Linked DNA regions of Homo sapiens. The protein of the gene in region 1 purifies or fractionates together with the protein of each later gene. This does not show direct contact. Each region holds a gene or a part of one and is shown in the gene's direction. Other genes may lie near its edges. The genes, in order: ATG2B and TKT.

The links.
Region 2: the proteins of ATG2B (region 1) and TKT purify together in Homo sapiens (affinity purification with mass spectrometry; 2 studies listed by BioGRID and IntAct, with this or other methods). This does not show direct contact.

Annotation. Positions count from the first base shown.
Region 1 is NC_000014.9:96,323,250-96,333,465, reverse strand, and holds part of ATG2B (autophagy-related protein 2 homolog B), read left to right. Parts: intron 1-810; coding exon 811-965; intron 966-1,055; coding exon 1,056-1,161; intron 1,162-1,828; coding exon 1,829-2,090; intron 2,091-3,831; coding exon 3,832-3,982; intron 3,983-4,699; coding exon 4,700-4,792; intron 4,793-4,930; coding exon 4,931-5,119; intron 5,120-7,543; coding exon 7,544-7,817; intron 7,818-9,467; coding exon 9,468-9,570; intron 9,571-9,678; exon of another isoform or gene 9,679-9,775; intron 9,776-10,216. UniProt on the Homo sapiens protein: Lipid transfer protein required for both autophagosome formation and regulation of lipid droplet morphology and dispersion.
Region 2 is NC_000003.12:53,223,685-53,233,900, reverse strand, and holds the end of TKT (transketolase), read left to right. Parts: intron 1-626; coding exon 627-745; intron 746-2,350; coding exon 2,351-2,544; intron 2,545-3,279; coding exon 3,280-3,444; intron 3,445-4,464; coding exon 4,465-4,621; intron 4,622-4,763; coding exon 4,764-4,894; intron 4,895-5,541; coding exon 5,542-5,625; intron 5,626-5,751; coding exon 5,752-5,845; intron 5,846-7,022; coding exon 7,023-7,145; intron 7,146-7,969; coding exon 7,970-8,145; 3' UTR 8,146-9,189; downstream 9,190-10,216. UniProt on the Homo sapiens protein: Catalyzes the transfer of a two-carbon ketol group from a ketose donor to an aldose acceptor, via a covalent intermediate with the cofactor thiamine pyrophosphate.

The DNA of each region.
Region 1 (10,216 bases):
AGTTTTGTTTTCTAAATGATTTAGTCTAAGGAAAACCAATTTATAAAAATGTAAATTTATGTGAAAGTTAAATTAGGTAGTTATATATTTTGTCAAATTATTATGTGCTCATGTAATGATTTCTAGATTAAGAAACTACTGAACTACTAAAGTTTAATAAGGAAACTTTCCTTTATTGATCTTTCCATCAGTTATATGTAAATAATGATCTCTACCCAGCTTACTTTACATTTATAGGTGTTTCACAATGTATAAATGCTAATAACATAAATAATATGGATCAATTTAAGTATGGAATGTTGGACAAAATAAGAAATCAAACCCTACTCAAAAAATTTTGGCCATAATAAACTTCATTTGCATGAGAGTAAAACAATTCCGAAAGAAGGAACTGAAATGTAAATGGAATTCCAAATAATGTTTTTGGCTCTGAATAAAAGAAATAACTGTATCCAGATGAAACTAGAGGTTGCAATATATTTATACTATTTTAATATCTGATTTTAATTCCTAAACTGGCATATCACATTAAAAATATACCAGGTAATACTACATTTATATATTTAAAACAAAAGAAAACATGTTCATCAGTAGGGTAGCTTCATTTTTTATTAATTTATATTGAGTTTTTACTATGCCATTAATATTTTGGACTCATAAATTACACCACTGTAAGTAACATAAAATTTGGGGCATCGCTGTATCTCATATAATCTGAAGGAAGAGGATTGTATTAACGTATATTAACTTACTTAAAAGACTTGAATTGGTGGGATTATAATACAAGTGACATAGTTTAATTCTCTCTAGAAGAAGAAGTATTCTTCTCCATGGCTGATATGGACATGTCTCATAGTCTCTCTTCTCTTCCACCCCTTGGGGACCCCCCAAACATGGACCTTGAGTTATCATTAACTAGTACATATACAAATACCCCAGCAGGATCTCCATTAAGTGCTACTGTGGTAAAGTATTACTTAATTTTTCTTCTAGACTGAAAAGTTGCTTCTAAAATTCTACACTTCATTCATGTGCTTAAAAAAAATCTTTTATAGCTTCAGCCCACTTGGGGAGAGTTCCTTGATCATCATAAAGAACAGCCAGTAAGAGGGTCAACATTTCCATCCAACCTAGTTCACCCAACACCTTTACAGAAGACATGTAAGTAAAAATAAGACATTTGTTGTTAGTTTCCGCTGGAATTTTTAAAATGCCATTCTACTGGTGCTTTTCTTTCTTTTTTTTTTTTTTCTGGTCTTGGCCATTTACAAAGTTCAGAAAGCAAAATGAACCATTGTTAAACAATTCACTGTGAAGTGTTTTAGAATAGTTGCTCATTTATTGTATTCTTTGTGTATTTAAATACTTAAATATTTTTAGTTAAAAGTACACTGTAAGTTTCATATTATTATTGCAGTTCAGGACCCTCAGTCAATCATGTGATTTTTGTTTCACTATTTACATTTTCCTTGGAAGAGAACCTCAGGTTTCTTTTCTGCAAAATTTAATTGATATAGACCCAAGGCTTAAAGGAAAATTTGGTGAGCAGTTTTTGGTTAATCTTGAGTTTTCCAGTATGTTTTTATTAATATAAAAGCTTGGTTTGTACATTTACTGTTGTCACGTACTCTTGTACTTTAGTACAAAAATCTTGGATGTAAGATGCAGCAAGATAGCAGTTGATTTTACTTAAATTAATTGTTTAATATCATTCAAACTGTTGTATGATCATCTGTTTTTTAAAGCTAATAAATGAGTAAATGTTTTATAATTTTAATAGTTTTATGTGTCAAATTTTATGTATATAATTTTAATACTTGTATTTTAGCTCTCCCATCTAGATCTGTTTCAGTGGATGAATCAAGGCCTGAACTTATTTTTAGACTAGCTGTGGGAACTTTTTCAATCTCTGTGCTTCACATTGATCCTTTATCTCCACCTGAAACGTCACAGAACCTTAATCCATTGACACCTATGGCAGTAGCTTTCTTTACTTGTATAGAAAAGATTGATCCAGCAAGATTTTCAACAGAAGATTTTAAGTCTTTCCGAGCAGTGTTTGCAGAAGCTTGCTCACACGATCACCTTAGGTAAACTCTCACATATGTATTAATGATCCTTTAAACTTCCACATATGCTAATGATCCTTGAAAAAGAACCACATGTGGACTTTTGTATCTGCCTATCTGCATTTGTTTTTCTAATTCACATTTTATTTGTAAATGAATGGAATGAGTGAAGTTTTCTTGCAGTGCTGCAAAGGTGTTTAGAATCTTTCATTCAGGTTATTTGGCATGCAGAATAACAGATCTAGATAATAGGAGTTTTCAAAGTGATCTCTTTAGTTCCCTGCCCAGCTCTTGTCAAGTTTCTTTAACCACATTTTGCCTTCATCCCTATTGACACCACTGCAGTCGTGAAAACAGTTCTTATTGTCACTGGCATTAGCAGAGATGACAGTGGTGATGAAAAATAAAATAATACTATTGGAACTGATCCATATGCCACTGGCCATGGGGTGGGAAACATTACCAAGGCTGATCCTGAAACTTGGATGCTACGTTTCAACTTCTGCTTAAGAAAAATCAAAGCTATCCAAATAGCCAGTGAGTGATCCTTTCATGGGTTGAGTCTTAACAGATGAGGAGATAATTGAATTTGTAATATAGTTGGTTTTTTTGTTTTGTTTTGTTTTTTGTTTTGAGACAGAGTCTCACTCCATCGTCCAGGCTGGAGTGCAGTGGCGCAATCTTGGCTCACTGCAACCTCTGCCTCTCAGGTTCAAGCTATTCTGCAGCCTCAGCCTCCTGAGTAGCTGAGATTACAGGCATGTGCCACCATGCCCAGCTAGTTTTTGTATCTTTAGTAGAGATGGGGTTTCACCATGTTGGCCAGGCTGGTCTCGAACTCCTGCCCTCCAGTGATCCACCTGCCTCGGTCTCCCAAAGTGCTGGGATTACAGGCGTGAGCCACCACGCCCAGCCTTTAGTATTGTTAACATGCAAACTCTGTTTTACAATTTTAATGTGAAAGTGATCTATAAATTGTTGAATGACATCTTATACGGTGGTTTAAACATATCATATATTAGTATTTTTAGAAAATACTTTGGGCGTTTATTTAATCTTTTTAACTTTTTTAAAGTATGAAAATTGATATGAAAAGTAGTTTTACACCTAATACAAGAAAAACTCTACAGGTTAGGATTATAGTATTTATACTCAAACTGTAAAAACATTTTGTTTTCTTCCACCCCCCTTTTTTTTTCTTGTATTTTTAAGAGAGATGGGGTTTCACCATACTGGCCAGGCTGGTCTCGAAGTCCTGACCTCAGGTGATCCGCCCACCTTGTCCTCCTCAAGTGCTGGGATTACAGGCATGAGCCACTGTGCCTGGACTTTTTTTTTTTTTTTTCCCATTTTTGACAAAGTTTCAAACATCTGCCAGTAGGAAAATAGAACAAAAGCGGCAGAAAATATAGGTAGACCTCATTTGGGCTTCACCGACTAAAGTTTTTGAAATATTGCATAATGTTTTTAGATAATTTTAAGAGACTATTTCATATATTTTACAGATCTGAAAGATTTTGCCTTTGCAATGTAAATTTTTAAATGTGGAAGACGAAGGGCAGTGTTGGGAAATAAACAGATCCTGGAAAATTTCCCATCAACAGAACTGATTTTTTATCTTAAGGAAAGGGAAATTTGAAGCAATCTTTCTGGTTAATTTCCTTAGGAGTATTAATTATTGATAACTTGAACTTGTCAGACTAGGTGGATAATTGTTACATTTTAACACTAATAATCTTAAATGGTGCATTTTTTATAATAGATTTATAGGTACTGGCATTAAAGTATCCTATGAACAAAGACAAAGATCAGCTTCCCGATATTTTAGTACTGATATGTCCATTGGGCAAATGGAATTTTTGGAGTGCCTATTTCCAACTGATTTTCATTCTGTTCCTCCTCACTATACAGAGGTAAATATTGAATACTTTTTCTTTAAGATTATTTTTTAAATCTACCTTGCTTTTTAATGATTGTATGAGGCAATGATTTTCTTTAAAAATGTATAGAAAGCCATAGGAGGAATATTGTCATTTTCTTTTTGCACTTGTGTTCTATAGAAATATATTTAAGAATGTCACTCAACATCGTTATAAGGATCTGTTAGAATTTTAAATTAGAGTTGACTTGTTTAGGAGTGACAGGTGGGTTATGAGAGAAATGACTTCATTTCACTCATGTTCAAAGCACTCTTCATTTCAGAAGAATTTGATTATTGAACAAATAATTATCGAATGCCTGCTGTGTGCTAAGCATTGTTTAAGACAAGTTAAATGTCTTGTGTTCATTCACCATTTTTCTGATATTTTTCCTAATGTAAAAGTGTGACCTAAAGAAACTTTAGAAAACTGTCAAAGTTATGTTCATTGCTGTTACTTTGACCCTTTATAGTGTTTTATTTCAAAAACACTTTCTTGGAAATGAATTTATTTGAATCCTCGCCTACATTTTACAGATGAGATATCACATGAGTTAACTAACTTGTCTAAGGTTCACATTGCTAGTAAGTGACAAAAATGAAACTTAAAACCAGATTTCTGACTTCAGAAAGCCTTTCTCATTATTGTATGGGCACCTCTGTAAATTCTTGTGATTAATACATTTAATTTATCTTCATCTTTACTTTTAAGCTTTTAACGTTCCATTCCAAAGAAGAAACTGGTTCCCATTCCCCTGTGTGTCTTCAGCTTCATTATAAGCATTCTGAGAATAGAGGGCCCCAGGTAAGAGATCTTTTTCTATAATTGCCACCTGTAAATTTTAATCTGATATATATTTTGTCACAATTATAAGGTTTTAACCCAATTATATAGTAGTTTTTAGTGATTGTATTAATGCCTTTTCTTTTTTTTTTTTAAAAGGGTAATCAAGCAAGACTTAGTTCAGTTCCTCACAAGGCAGAATTGCAAATTAAATTAAATCCAGTGTGTTGTGAGCTGGATATCAGTATTGTGGACAGGTTAAATTCCTTGCTTCAACCACAGAAACTTGCCACAGTAGAGATGATGGCATCCCACATGTATACTTCATATAATAAACATATTAGTCTGGTAAGTATTCAAAAGCTGCAAATACTAATCATAATTATGGTTAGCTAATAGGGTTATTGAGATAATTTCTGAACTTAAGTATTTTTAATAGATTAAACAGTATAATTAAAATAGCATTATTTGTAATAATAAAAAAAGGAGACATCTTTTATGTCTTGATAGTAGACTAGCTAAATAAGTTTTTGAGACACACTGAATGAAATGTTATGTGGTCATTTAAAATGATGGTTATGGCCAGGCGTGGCGGCTCACACCTGTAATCCCAACACTTTAGGAGGCTGAGGTGGGAGGATCACTTGAGGCCAGTTCGAGACAAGCCTGGCCAACATGGCGAAACTCTGTCTCTACTAAAAATACAAAAATTAACTGGGCATGGTGGCACACACCTGTAATCTCAGCTACTCAGGAGGCTGAGGCATGAGAATAGCTTGAACCCAGGAGGCGGAGGTTGCAGTTAGATCGCATCACTGCACTTCAGCTTGGGTGACAGAGCGAGACTCTGTCTCAAGAAAAAGAAAAAGAAAATGATGGTTATGAAGATGGTATAACAACATGAAGAAGGCTCATCAAGGATTAAATGAAAAAGTAGAATATATTGCTTTACATAAACTTGTCACACCTGTGTAAATAAAATTGATGTATAGAAAAAGAATGGCGAGAAATATGCCAGTCAGTAGCATTGTTTATATTACAGTGGAATTAGGTTTCCTTTACTTTTCATGTCTATCAGAGTTTTTATAAGCTGTGATTATAACGACTTTATAAAATTTTATCTATTTATACATTTGATAAGTTACTTGAACTACCTAAAACATGAAGCCCAAACAATATGGGATATACTTTTGAAAATAATCTATTGAACATCACATTATATCACTTTTACTTGCATCTGGTGCCTGGGGTCTTTTCTAAGCAAATTAAATCAGTCAAGTTTGCAAGAAGTCTGTTAGGAATTTTGGGGCCAGAGGACCAGGATCAGATGGAGACAACCTTAGTTAAAAAGAAAAGGAAAAAGATATTTTATTTTTCTACTTCTTTGCTTTTCTCTTAGTATTGAGTATTCACATCAAATTAGCATTGTTTATTATTATTATTATTATTATTATTATTATTATTGAGACAGACATCTGTTGCCCAGACCGCAGTGCTGTCATACGGTATCAGCTCACTTCAGTCTTGACCCCCTTGGCTTAAGCGATCCTTCTACCTCAGCCCCCCAAATAGTTGGGGCTACATGCATGTGCCACCACACCCGGTTAAGTTTTTATATTTTGTCTCCCTATGTTTCCCAGGCTGGGCATTCTTTGTTATTGTTATCAATTGCTAGTTATTTTAGTTTCTGTGGGGTAGTCTGTATATTAGCTGTAACTATATATGCAATTGGATGATGGTTTAATCTGTTGGGTTATTTTTGCCTGAGAGTGGTGGTTAAATATTAGCAAATCAAATGGGGAGAGTTAGAATAGATTTGTTAAAAATCCAAGTCTGGATGGGTGTGGTGGCTTGCACCCATAGTCCCAGCAACTCAGGAGGCTGAAGCAGGAGGATTGCTTGAGCCCAGGAGTTTGAGACCAGCCTGGGTGATACAGCAAGACCTGTTTCGAAAAAAACAAACACAAAAATTGTAAGTCTAGCATATGCAGGGAGTTTTCAAATCATGGAGGTTAGAAATTGATTGAAGAAACTGAGGAGTGTTACAACGTAGAGTGGAATAAAGCTTTTTTAGTTTCAATATATTTTAGAGAAAAAATAGAAATAGATTTCTATTTGAATGGGATGTTCTTTGACCCTTTTATTGTAAGATGGCTTTGGGTAAAATGGTGCATATATCTTGGTCTCATAGAACCATTTGATGAGATCATACCCTTGGATTGGATAGGAGCTCAGAGTGCGTCATTTAGTGAATATTTATTTAGAACCTGTGATGTGCCAGCCTCTGGGTTTTATCTTAGAAGTACAAAGTTGAGTCAGCGATTGTATTTGGCATAATTCATCTGATTTCACATTGAGTATTTAAAATCATATATTGGTAGAAAAGTCTTTCAAACTGAATGTTGGACACTACAGTGATTTTTAACCGTATTGAATTTGTTGGTAGGCTAATTTACACCGTATTCTTTATAAATTTATAGTAAGATAAATATTAATATATAGTGCCTTTGTCTTCACTTTGGCTCAGTTTTTAATTTAATTTTTTATTTCAGAGTTTAACTTTTGCCAATAGTTTTCACTTTTGCTAATAGTTGTTGCATTATAAAATTTTTTTACACTAAATTAATATGGTAGTGGTTAATTTGAATTGACTTTTAATGCATTATACCAAATGGGGAGATAGTGATTATACATATTGTAATGTTGAATACTGTGTAATTTATGTTCATTTACTTTAATATTTTGGCATATTTTTGATGTTTTGTGTTTTAGCACAAGGCTTTCACTGAAGTGTTTCTAGATGATTCACATAGTCCTGCAAATTGTCGGATATCAGTACAAGTTGCCACACCAGCATTAAACCTTTCTGTTCGCTTCCCAATACCTGATCTTCGATCTGATCAAGAAAGAGGACCATGGTTTAAGAAGTCACTTCAGAAGGAGATCCTTTATTTAGCCTTCACAGATCTAGAATTTAAGACTGAATTTATAGGAGGATCAACCCCAGAACAAATTAAATTGGAACTTACCTTTAGAGAACTAATTGGTAAGATTGAATGTGCCTGTAAAAGAACCATCCTAGATAACAAACAACTGCTACTGAAACTTAACATCACAAAAGTATCTGACAGCCCTGCAATATAGTACAATTAAAGAACATTATGTTAAAATCAACAGCAACAATGTCTTTCTAGTATTGTATGCAAATATGTGATATAGGTAATTTTTTAAAAACTAAGGATGATGATTCATTCACTTTGTTAAAATTCCTGTTTACTGCAGGAGAGTGTAGTACTTTAGCCTACATTTTTATTACCACCTCTCGTTTATTTATTGTAGGACTGATAATAGAACTTGTTAAGTGCCACTGTATGTTAAATATTATGCTAAGCACTTGATACACATTTTCTTGTTTTTTTAGTCATCATAATCACCATATGTTTATTTTTCCAGTTATTTTTATAATTTAATAGATGAGACCATCTGTGGACCTAGAAGGAAGTATCTACCAAGATCATGTTGTAGTCAATGGCAGAATCAAGATTTGAACCCAAGTCTGACAGTGGAGCTTGAGCTTTCAACCATTACACTAACTAATCGCTAGTGACTTTTATTTGTAAAACTCGTTTTGATTTTTTCTGCATTACTTTGTTTTTGTCAGTTAATGAAGGGAATTTATAAAAACTTTAAAGTGAACCAAGTCTATGAAGACCTGGAAAACCTTTTATCCTGTGGTTCCTAGACCACCTGCCTCTGCCACGACACCCTCTCTCCGCAACCACACTCCCACCCCTCATGAGAATAGTTTGCAAAAGTTCCCCTTCTTTTCTCTCTCGGTTTTACGTATCTTAAGAGGTATTTAAAATTGATTGTTGTCAATTATGACTTCATGAAAGGGCCTTCAGGTGTTGTGAGATCATCCCTTATCTCCAGTGGTGAGAAACTCATTATTCTGGAGGAAAGCCATTTTTCATTTGTAAAATGGATTGAAAAAACACGTATAGAATTTTTGTTGTTGTTGTTTTTGTTTTTCAGACAGAGTCTTGCTTTGTTGCCCAGGCTGGAGTGCAGTGGCATGATCTTGGCTCACTGCAATCTTCATCTCCTGGCTTCAAGCGATTCTCGTGCCTCAGTTGGATGTCACCACACCCAGCTAATTTTTGTATTTTTTAGTAGAGACGGGTTTTTTCCATGTTGGAGAGGCTGGTCTCTTAACTCCTGACCTCAGGTGATCCGCCTGCCTCAGCCTCCCAAATGCTGGGATTACAGGTGTGAGTCACCGCGCCCAGCCCGTGTAGAATTATTTTGAACAGAGGTGTTTCTTACAGTGTTTGGTACAAAATACATATTTAAGAAATGTAGTTATTTTTCTAGTGGTAGATTATATAGACTTTATGAAGAAATAATCACTAATAGCACTTAGTAAGTGGTAAGTGCTTGCTCTATTTACTATGTCATTATGTACTTTATGCAGTGTACCTTGGTACTTAAGAATTTGAGTTTGAACACAAAACAGAATCTTTAATTTATTGGCTCATTCTGTCTACCACACGTGCACATGAAACCAGAACAACTGAAAAATGCTGTAGAACTTAAGGTTGCATTATGTTCCTGATTGAGAGGATCTTTGCTCCTCCATCTCTTCTTTTAGTACTTGAGAAGAAGCACATTTCAGTAAATCAGTCTTTTTTTTTAGGATCGTTCCAGGAAGAGAAAGGAGATCCATCTATTAAGTTTTTCCATGTGTCTAGTGGAGTAGATGGAGATACAACATCGTCAGATGACTTTGACTGGCCACGGTGAGTAAGCAAATGCATAGGTTTAATAGGATTTTCCTTTTAAAAATAAAATATTCTTTTAAACCAACATTTTGTCTATTAAATATAAGCTAAACATGTCCATCCTTGATTCTTTTGTGGTTCATAAGCGTGATGATTGGGTGTTCACATGAATGTGTGAGATGTGTCACCCTCAAACCTTGTTGTGCTATTTTTCTGCCTGCCTTGCTTTACTCCTCCTCTCCACTGTCTATTAGACCGATTAGATTCTTAGGACAGATGTTGCTCATACACACCTGGTAATAAGCATGAGTTTAGAGCACAAGTTTCATAAGGACTGGATCTACTTCGGTTAAATAATTCAGAAGCACAATTTATATTAGGATATGTATCAATTAGGAAAAAAGCCTGTGATCATTTACAAACCAAATAACACCACTACCTAGGGAATAAGAGTTGCAGTTGCAGCACAGCTATTCTCTTTGAGGGTTCCATGCCTCCTTATAACAATGGGTGGATGTGGTAATCAAAGGAGAATGAAAAGTCTGTGCTAGAGATGTTCTGTAGAAGCTTAGGAAAGGGATTACTCTGGAGTAAAAAGCTCATTAGTTTTTGTAGTCATAGGCTGCATTAACTCAGTGATCTTTAGGTTTTGTGGTTATAAAAC
Region 2 (10,216 bases), on another chromosome or scaffold:
AAGCATGGCGTGGTGAGGCTTCAGTGGGCTAATATGGGTAGTGGTTGGCATGGCACTCAGTTTGAGAAGTGCTATTTTTATTCTTATGTCAAAAAGAGTCCCCAAAAGGATAGCTTTTCAAGAGAAAGGGTGCTCTGCCCCAGCTCCTTCCTGTATATTTGACTCCATGGTTCATTTCAAAAACATTTCCAGCACCACATCCAGCATCTGTGGAGTGATCAAATGTGTTCCCCAAATAAGAATTGGGCCAAAAAATTCATCAAGAATCTAATAGCAGACAGATTCCAAACCCAGTGCGCTGACCCCAGAACAGCTTTCAGTAGGAAATGAGCAGATCAGGAATGAAAGAGACAATAAAGGAACTGAGCTCTGGATTACTTAAGAGGAGGAGGAAAACCTGTTCAGAGGCAAACAAAAGGAAGTAAAATAATGTGAAAAAGAAAAGGATTTAAAAAACCCAAACTGGAAACAGGAATGTTGCAAGCTTTCTACTACTCCAGCTGAGGCCGCAGTTGTGGGGTGGAGCCTGGGCAGACCCCAGCTGCCAAGGCAGACCTTTCCCTGGAAGGCTCCTCGGTGTTGTGGCCCCTGGGAATTGCCCCTTACTCTCTGCCCCCTGTCCCCAGTTGGCATGCCATCATCGTGGATGGACACAGCGTGGAGGAGCTGTGCAAGGCCTTTGGCCAGGCCAAGCACCAGCCAACAGCCATCATTGCCAAGACCTTCAAGGGCCGAGGGATCACGGGTCAGTATGCACAAGCCGCCCTCCCCACCTTCACCCCTCGCCCAGACACTGTGGCTACGTAGCTCTGACCCGCACATCCAGGGAAACAGCCCTTGCTGCTCACTGAGCTCACCAGGCTCCAGGGAAGGGGAGCGGGAGATGCTGTGACTCAGTGACCCCTGTGGCTGAGCCAGGATTTAAACTCAGATCCGTCTGGCCTCTGCCGGTGGGGGCATGTACAGGCAGGAGGAGAGGAGGGACTTGGAGGGTCTGTGGGTGAGAGGAAGGTCGTGGAGTGAGGCAGCCCCCGTGCCCCACCCTGGCTGGTGCCTTTCAGAGCTGCAGCTGTGTGTGCTCTGCCAGCTCCGGCCACCTGCTCCAGCTGAAGGGCCGACACAGAGCCAGGCAGGGCCCGGAGAGAACTGTTCCCTCCAGGAGGTGAGTGGGGTACTCCTCAAGCAATGGCAGATGCTGAGCAAGGCCTGTGTGGGCCAAGAGCCTTGGGGGGTTTGGAACCTGGGTTCTGCCCCAGGCCGGAGAATGAGGCAGGCGTAAGTCACTCCCTGGCACCCAGGTGTGGGCTTCAGATTCCTAGGCCTGGGATGGCCTCACCCATTTTAAAGATGGGAAAATGAGACTACAAGTGGTCAGGGACTTGCCCGGGGACAGAGGAAGTCTATGGCACGAGGGGGGCTGATCCCAGGGCCTGGGTCGGCTTCCCTGCCAAATGCCCCTGGCTGCCCACCTGCCTGCTCTCAGGGGTTGTGGCTTGTTCTGCCCATGTAGACTCAGGTATATGAGGATGTTCTGAGTGGGGGTTTGGCAGTGCTGGGAGGTGTCTGGGAGGGGGTGGATGTCGAGGAAAGGGCTCTGGGATATTGTCATGGCTTTGGTGCTGCTGCCTGGCACTGCCCTCTGGTGTTAAAAATGGGCAGGATCTGGACCACTTGCAGCTTCTTGGGGGCTCCTGCTAGTCTTTCGGGCTGCTGGGTGCTACCTGGGAGTTCAGTCTGTTCTTGGCTCTGGCCAGACTCTAGTGACTACTGAGGTGACCTCCAGGGAGAGGGATATTCAGCCTTCCTGGCCGCACACAACAAGGTGCCATGGGGTGGGCATGCCTAGGTGCTTATAGACTCCTCTGCTGCTCACAGATGCATTGGGTGACCCTGGAAGCCCTGTTCTGGGCCTTGGGTTCCCCTTCTGATGGCCAGGGTCCCTTCCAACCCAGTCGACAAACTGAGTATTTCTGCAGCAGACACCTCTACCTGTGTGTGACCCTGCAGGCGGGGTTGTGGGGAGGAAGAGAATGGACACATTGGTGAAGGGATGGGGCAGTGGGCCCAGAAACACACACCTGCCCACGTCTGGCCCCTCCTTTCCCACTCAGCTGTGAGCTCCCAAAGGACCAGGCAGTAGACAGTGAGTGGTGGGCACGTAGGAGTCCATCCTATTCACTGCGACCCTCCTTTCCTGGCCCCCGTGCCTGGCTGGGCTCTGCCTGTCTGGGATGATGCCATTCCTCCCTTGCCCTCGGCAGGTAGAGGGCCAGTCTCCTGGAGCAGCCTCCTGGCCCTCTGGGAGCTTCTGTCTTACCCATTCCTCTGTCCTCCCGTGTTGGGTCTGCAGGGGTAGAAGATAAGGAGTCTTGGCATGGGAAGCCCCTCCCCAAAAACATGGCTGAGCAGATCATCCAGGAGATCTACAGCCAGATCCAGAGCAAAAAGAAGATCCTGGCAACCCCTCCACAGGAGGACGCACCCTCAGTGGACATTGCCAACATCCGCATGCCCAGCCTGCCCAGCTACAAAGTTGGGGACAAGGTACAAAGTGGGGCCTGTTTCTCTGAACCCATAGTTCTCAGGTTTCCCAAGTCTGTGGCCCAGATACACCCTCTGGAGGGCTGGGAAAGGGAGGAGAGCGATTCATTTAGGGCGAGGAGTGATCCCTGAGGTGTTGTTCCTGTCACTTCCCTCAGAATGACAGACATCTCTGGAGTTGACCTGCAGAGGCTCAGACCGGGCAAGGGAATTGCCCACTTAGCAAGCTTAGCAAGCTACTGACAGAACTGAGATCAAAGCCAAGGACTCACTCCCAAGTTCTTGCATCGCTGGTCCACGAGGGACCCTTGGCCTGAGCTCAGGACCCCCACCTGACCTGGGAAAGGCTAGGCAGAGCTGTCCCACTCCAGGTTTCTGTCCCAAGGGAACCCATCCATGCAGCCTGTGCCTGGCCTTGACTCCCAAGCCTTCTGTGTTCCCATGCAAAGTGGAATAGGTTCATGGACCTGGTGCAGCAGGCGGGAAGTTGGGGCTGGTGGGTGTCTTCTGTAGCTTATACCTTTCACAGCCAGAAGGGGCCGGGGCTCCAGGGGCTCCCAAGACATTGACCGTAGTCGTTGGCAACCTTTCAGCAGTTAAAAGCCTCTGCAGGACCTTGTGCTCCAGGGCTTCCATTTTTGGCCCCGTTTTAATCCTTCTCTGAAAGCAGGGCTCCAGGCTGCAGGTGTGCACTCACCCTCAGAGGGGTCCAGAGCCTTCCCACTCTCTTCCTCACAGATAGCCACCCGCAAGGCCTACGGGCAGGCACTGGCCAAGCTGGGCCATGCCAGTGACCGCATCATCGCCCTGGATGGGGACACCAAAAATTCCACCTTCTCGGAGATCTTCAAAAAGGAGCACCCGGACCGCTTCATCGAGTGCTACATTGCTGAGCAGAACATGGTAGGTGCTGGGGCCGGCAGGGACAGGTCCACCCAAGGCTGAGGGCTGTGGTCTGAGGGGTGCGGGGCAGCCATGTTGGCAGAGCCAGGTGCCTGCTGTAGGCCAGCCCAGGGAGACTATAAGAAAAGCCAGGACCCAGCGTTAACCCCTGACCTTGAACAGCCACAGTTTGGGAGGTTCTGCCCAGGTGCAAATGTCCTGGACAGGTGTGCACATGGGGGAGCCGAATGGGACTGCAGGTGCTCTCAGGAGGAGCTGCGTACAGGCCAGGCCTGGTGGTGAATGGGGTCTCTTCCAGGTGGAGGACAGGCCTGGCCAGTAGGTGGGGCCGTGATGGGTTTAGCAGCCCGAGTCTGTAGAGCACCTGTAATGCACACGGCTCTGGGCCCTGCCACCCTGAGGGATGCAGAGATGAGGGAACTCTGGGCCCCTGACATGTACCCATTTGGGGAAGCAGACCCTTGTCAGGAACTGAGGTTGTGAAGTAAGGAACAATGTTTTGTCCATGTTTTCAAAATATCCCCTCCTGGTGGTCCAGGAGCCCAGCCTGGCTTGCAGGCCCCTAGGGACAGGGAGCTTCCTCTCTCTGGAGGGCACTCAGATCTCCAGAGTTCTTCCAACTGGACCTGAAATTCTCTCTGTGGTTTCCAGAGACTGCTCTGCAGGGCGTGGGGCTGGGGAGGTCCCAGGTACTAGGGAAAGAGGCCTTGTGTTGGCTGGCAGATTTTGGAGCCTTGAAGGGCAGCTGGTTTGGAACTGATGACTGTACTCAGTGCTGCTTCTGGATGAGTGATTTGGGGCCTGGAGCCTCAGCAGGCATGAGGCTGCTGCCCTCGGACCCCAGGGAGGGGTTGGGAGGACCGGTCTCTGCAGAAGAAGGTGGTGGGGGACATATTCAGAAGCCCAGAAAGGATGGACAATCTATATACAAATTGTGGCTTTCTCCACAAAAGGGGTCCTAGGCTCCCCGACCACCCTCTGCCTGCCCCTTTGGGCTGACCCTGTCCCACCTGCCCCCAGGTGAGCATCGCGGTGGGCTGTGCCACCCGCAACAGGACGGTGCCCTTCTGCAGCACTTTTGCAGCCTTCTTCACGCGGGCCTTTGACCAGATTCGCATGGCCGCCATCTCCGAGAGCAACATCAACCTCTGCGGCTCCCACTGCGGCGTTTCCATCGGTGAGTTTAGCCAGGGTGTTTACACCTGGAGCTCCCTTGACTTTTGCACCAGGAGGTATGGGAGGGGGATGGGCCAGGATTCCAGCCCATGGATGGGGGGGTAGGGGTCTTATTTCTGCATATCCTTTCCCCCACACCCCAGGGGAAGACGGGCCCTCCCAGATGGCCCTAGAAGATCTGGCTATGTTTCGGTCAGTCCCCACATCAACTGTCTTTTACCCAAGTGATGGCGTTGCTACAGAGAAGGCAGTGGAACTAGCCGCCAATACAAAGGTAGGTTGCATGGCTGTTCTTTCTCCTGCTGGCAGCCATCACTTCCCAAGGGAAACAGAAGAGGAGGCCAGAGCTGGTCACTTGCTGCCCCAGGGGGTGTTTCCTGACCTTGCCCCTGGTGTTCGTGTAGCTTGTGGAAGTTAGACAAGAAAAAACGAAATACACACCCCACTTACTGCCACGTGGCAGACATTGTCAACTGATTGCCAGTCTGTCTCTGCTGAGAATCCTGGCAGCCCTGGCCGGTCCAGCGGTTGACACCTCTCCACCCTCCTGAGTTGGGTTCTCCAAGACAGGCAAGGATGAGCTGAGCCCTGTGGTCCAGGCCCGGAGCTGCATGCCACAGACCCAGTGCGCGTGGTTCCTGCCCCTCTGCCTGGTGCAGTCTGTGGGAGTAGCCCACCTGCAGCCAGTCTACCTGGTGGAAAGTTGCCTTCGGTCTGAGGCTGCAAGGTGGTGGGCAGTTCTCAGAGTGTTCAAGTGGGGTGCGGGCGGCAGAGGGCAAGCAAGGCCCTTTTCCCTGCTGGAGTAGCCAGGATGCAGTAACTAACGCTCCCATGGGAAGGGATGGCCTCTCTAGAAAGACCTCGTCTCTGAGGTTGGGTGTGCCACATCCTGTATCCTCAGTTTATCTGTTTCGGTCTCAGGGTATCTGCTTCATCCGGACCAGCCGCCCAGAAAATGCCATCATCTATAACAACAATGAGGACTTCCAGGTCGGACAAGCCAAGGTCAGTGCCTCGCATGCCCCAGGAGCCCACAGAGCTGCCTGGACCCTCCCTGCTGTGACTCCCAGCAGTCAGGGCACACCCTGCCCCAGGGCCCTGAGCCTTACTCACCCTCTGTGTCACCCCCAGGTGGTCCTGAAGAGCAAGGATGACCAGGTGACCGTTATCGGGGCTGGGGTGACCCTGCACGAGGCCTTGGCCGCTGCCGAACTGCTGAAGAAAGGTGAGGAGAAGGGGCCTCCAAAGTCATCAACTGAGCGGCCACTGCATGCTAGGTCTTGGGGTTCTTTCTTTCGTTCTTTCTGTTCTTTCTTGAAGAGCTCACAGCTAGAGAGAAAGCATTTCATTTCATTAAATAATGATAGCAATTATAGCCATCCTTTGAGCACTTGTTCTGTCTGGCATGTTGCTAAGTCCTGGGGCTGCAGTGCCCACAGTCCCTACCCTATGACTCTAAAGTCGAGACCCCCCCAGCATGGTGGCCAGATCAGTGGCCTGGAGCCTGCCAGCTGGGCTGGAATCACTCAGCCAGGCACTAGTTAAGGAAGTAAGTTATTCACTGTCACCATGCCTGTTTTCCTATCTGTAAAATGGAGATACTAGCCCCTTGCCCTCAGAGCTCTCCTGAGGGTTACATGCATGTGACTTGGTATTCTATTATTATTACTGCGAGCTCACAGTGTTGGCTAGTGGTTTGTAGGGGAGACAGGCATTGGCCTCTCCTGCAATAGAATCACACAGCAGATGTCATGTTTTAGCACGAAAGAGGGGGCAGGTGTGGCATCTTCCAGAAAGTGGCTTCAGAGTGGGTAGGAATTGATTAGCAGAGAGGAGAGTGAAGGGAGGCCGGAGGAGGGTCAGGCAGGAGCAAGATGGGGCTGGAGGAGCCAGAGGAGTCCATCCCCAGGCAGGGGGAGACCCAGGGGGGTGAGCTTTAAGCAGGGCCTGGCAAGCGTGGGTTTGTCCTTCTGAGAAGGTGCCTCTGCTGCTGGGGCCGCACGTGGGCCTCTGATCACTCTGCGGGCTGCAGCTCCCCAACGTCACCACATCAAGCCTCACCTTCCATCAGGCCAGACACCTGGGGTGTTTTCTCTCGCATTCCCTTTGTCTTCAAGGTTGTGGGAGGATGAGGGAAGGCGCTCAGGGCCTGCACGCTCCGCTCTGGGTTCTTGGATACTGCGGGCAACACAGCTGGACCAGATGCCCCAGTGCAAGGGGTTGGCAAGCATGAGCTCAGCCATGGGAACGAGGTGGCAAGTGGTTCTCCCTGGGACAGGGACAGGCCCGCAGGCTGAGCTCTTAGCTACACGCAGCCCTCAGGATGTCCCACCAGGCCCCCACCAGGGCAGATAGTGGTGCCCAGCCCTCCCCTCAGCCACGCCGTGTGCTCTCCCTCACAGAAAAGATCAACATCCGCGTGCTGGACCCCTTCACCATCAAGCCCCTGGACAGAAAACTCATTCTCGACAGCGCTCGTGCCACCAAGGGCAGGATCCTCACCGTGGAGGACCATTATTATGAAGGTAAGGAGGCCTGGGGCAGGCAGGCTGGGCAAGGGACAGGGCCAGAGAGCCGAGCGTTGGACGTGCCTCTTCTATCTGAGCCCCAGGAGGGCAGCTGTGGCCCAGAACACCCAGAGCTGTCCCTCAGAGCAGCTGGGACGTGGTCTCTTAAAAGGCCTCAGGCTTGGCCTGGGGACCTAGCTAACTCACAGCTGCTGATGAGCTCTGTGGAGCTCCTGCTGCCCAGGAAGCTGGTGAGGATTCCAACCTCGCTGCTAAATGGTGGATGGTGGCGTCCCTGAGGTAGTGTAGGGTGGAAGCTATGGTGCAGCTTGGGAAGCAATGCAGAATTTCTGGTATTTGTGAGTCCTTCACACAGCAGGCTCCCTAAGTACACACCAGCCTCTCTAAGTAGGAGGCCCCAGTGGGAGAGATGGGCTTTGACTCTGGGGTCAAATGTAGATAATTGGACTATGGACAGTGGCTGGCTGGTCACCAACAATGGTGTTTGAAACAAACATTTAGAGGCCATATTTGGGCTTATAAAAATAGTTCTGGGCCGTGCATGGTGGCTCACACCTGCAATCCCAGCACTTTGGGAGGCTGAGGACAGCGGATTTCTTGAGCTCAGGAGTTGGGAGACCAGCCTGGGCAACATGGTGATACCTGTCTGTCTCTTTAAAATAAAAAAAATCAATGAGTTATGTGATGGGCTCATGGCTACAGGTGGAGAAAGGCAGTGCATATGCAGCCTCCTCCATCCTTGACTAAGGCTGACAGAGGGCTGGGCCCACCACTGCTCACCCTGAGGCCTCGTCTTCTGACTCCCCTCCTTTCATTTCTAGGTGGCATTGGTGAGGCTGTGTCCAGTGCAGTAGTGGGCGAGCCTGGCATCACTGTCACCCACCTGGCAGTTAACCGGGTACCAAGAAGTGGGAAGCCGGCTGAGCTGCTGAAGATGTTTGGTATCGACAGGGATGCCATTGCACAAGCTGTGAGGGGCCTCATCACCAAGGCCTAGGGCGGGTATGAAGTGTGGGGCGGGGGTCTATACATTCCTGAGATTCTGGGAAAGGTGCTCAAAGATGTACTGAGAGGAGGGGTAAATATATGTTTTGAGAAAAATGAATTGGCCCTGAAATGTTTTCTTTTTTGATGTGTTTGCAGCCAGTGCAGGTTCTGGGGAAGAAGCGTGGAGGGTGCGCTAGGGAGGCTGGTGTCCTTGGTCCTGGGCCAGGACCTGGGTGTCCCAAGTCCCCTTGGAATCACCTGCAACTGCCCTCAACCTCCAGAACTATCGCTGCCTCCCATTCATCACCAGGTGACATTTGACTGCAACCTGCCTTCTAGCTGAGAGGCTGAGACCTACATCCCTCATTGTGACCTCAGTCCACCTGGCCCTGAGCGGGCTGGGGAACTGCCTCAGTCTGGAAGCTGACCAGGCACTCTCAGGGCCGCCCCACCTCCCCCAAGTCCCCACAGCCTTGCAGTCAGGTCTCCTGGGATAGGGAGGTTCACTTGCTTGTTGTCCCTCGTCCTTGTCATATCCTTTTAACTAGGCATCTCAGAGAAGCAGAGACAGGGCAGCCTTCGTCCTGGGGGAAAAGGGACCCTCAGGATGGCATGAGAGGTCCTCAATCCCAAGTGTGGAACTGTCCCCCTCAACTTGTTAAAATGCAGATTTCTGGGTCTTGCCAATGGGGCCTGGGACTCCATGTGACAACTGGCCCAGGAGCTTCTGATGTCACACAGAATTCTGCAGTCCCAAGCTCCAGCCCCGACCTGCTCTGCTGTTCCTAGGTGACTGCCCTCACACTGCTGACCACAGTGGATTTCTCCCCCTGCTGCTCGGGCTCAGCTGGGGTCAGCCCTGCTTATAAGGTCAACTGTGCAAAACCTTATACTGGCCAAGAACAAACTAGTGCTGGGGGAGGAGGGCTGGGTGCCCCGGCCACTGGTGGAGTCCCCAGGAAATCCTCAGAGCTGTTGCGAGGATGAGACACATTTGTGGACACGTCCACCTGTCCTCCTGACCGTCTGGAGAGAATAAACCTGTCAAAGCCAAGGTCAGGCAATTGCCCCCCACTTAGCTACCCAGCCAGGTCTAGCAGTGCCAGAGGCTGTGCCTGTGTTTGCCTCAACACCAATTCCAGAGGGACCAGGCATGGGGTGATGTGGTTTGGTCCCAGGGGGGTGCCCTGGGCTGATGCCTGTTCACCAGTGTGTTGAGGGCAGACCTGGGATTGGAACCTGGGTCTCTGTGAGTCTAGAGATCCCACCTTCTGTACCCTACTGCCCCTAGGGCCCTCAAAAGAGGAATCATGCAGTAGGCTCCCAGGAGGGCCCTGGTCCCATAGGATGATGGGAACAGCCTGGGGCTCAGGTCCTGTGCGTCTCCAGAGCCCACAGGCCCCTGCAGAGAATCTAGAGGCAAATACTGGGACAAGGACACCTGAGCCATAGGCACAGGCCCAGCCAGCAGCCTGGTGAGCCCATCTACACTGGCTAGCCATGCCCCAAGGACCTGGGAGGCCTGGCTAACCCAAAGTAGAGGGACAGGAGGGGCAGCTGCCCTCACCTCCAGCCTGCCTGGCCTCTCCCAGGCCCACACAGCTTGTGAAGAAGAAGACGAGAGCCTGGGCAGCAGGCGCCGGGGCCTGGGCAGGATGAGGGAGGAGAGTCAAGAACCCTGACCCAGTCACCCAGACCCAGTCCGGGGACATCAAGGCTACAGGAAGCTGGGACATTCAGGAATCCCAGAGCTGAAAAACTCTGCCTCCTTTTTGGCGAGAAGACTTAGAGTATAATGTGCTTAGTGTAGGGCGTGCTTGGTGCGGAGTGTGCTGGAGGCCATCACTGGGTCCTCATGGGAGCCTGACGAACTTGTCATTTCTCCCTCAGCCCCTGCTCAGGAAATACGGGAAGCCAAGACAGTGCCTGAGGCCTGACTGGAGGCTGGTGTGGCCTGACCTGTCAGCTAGCAAGGCCTGGCGGTGCCTCATGGCATAGACAGCTGAGCAGGAGGGCAGCATGGCCCCCCAGCAGCCTAGGACAAACTTTCCTGGCACCAGGGAAAGCCCCTCCCACCCCTG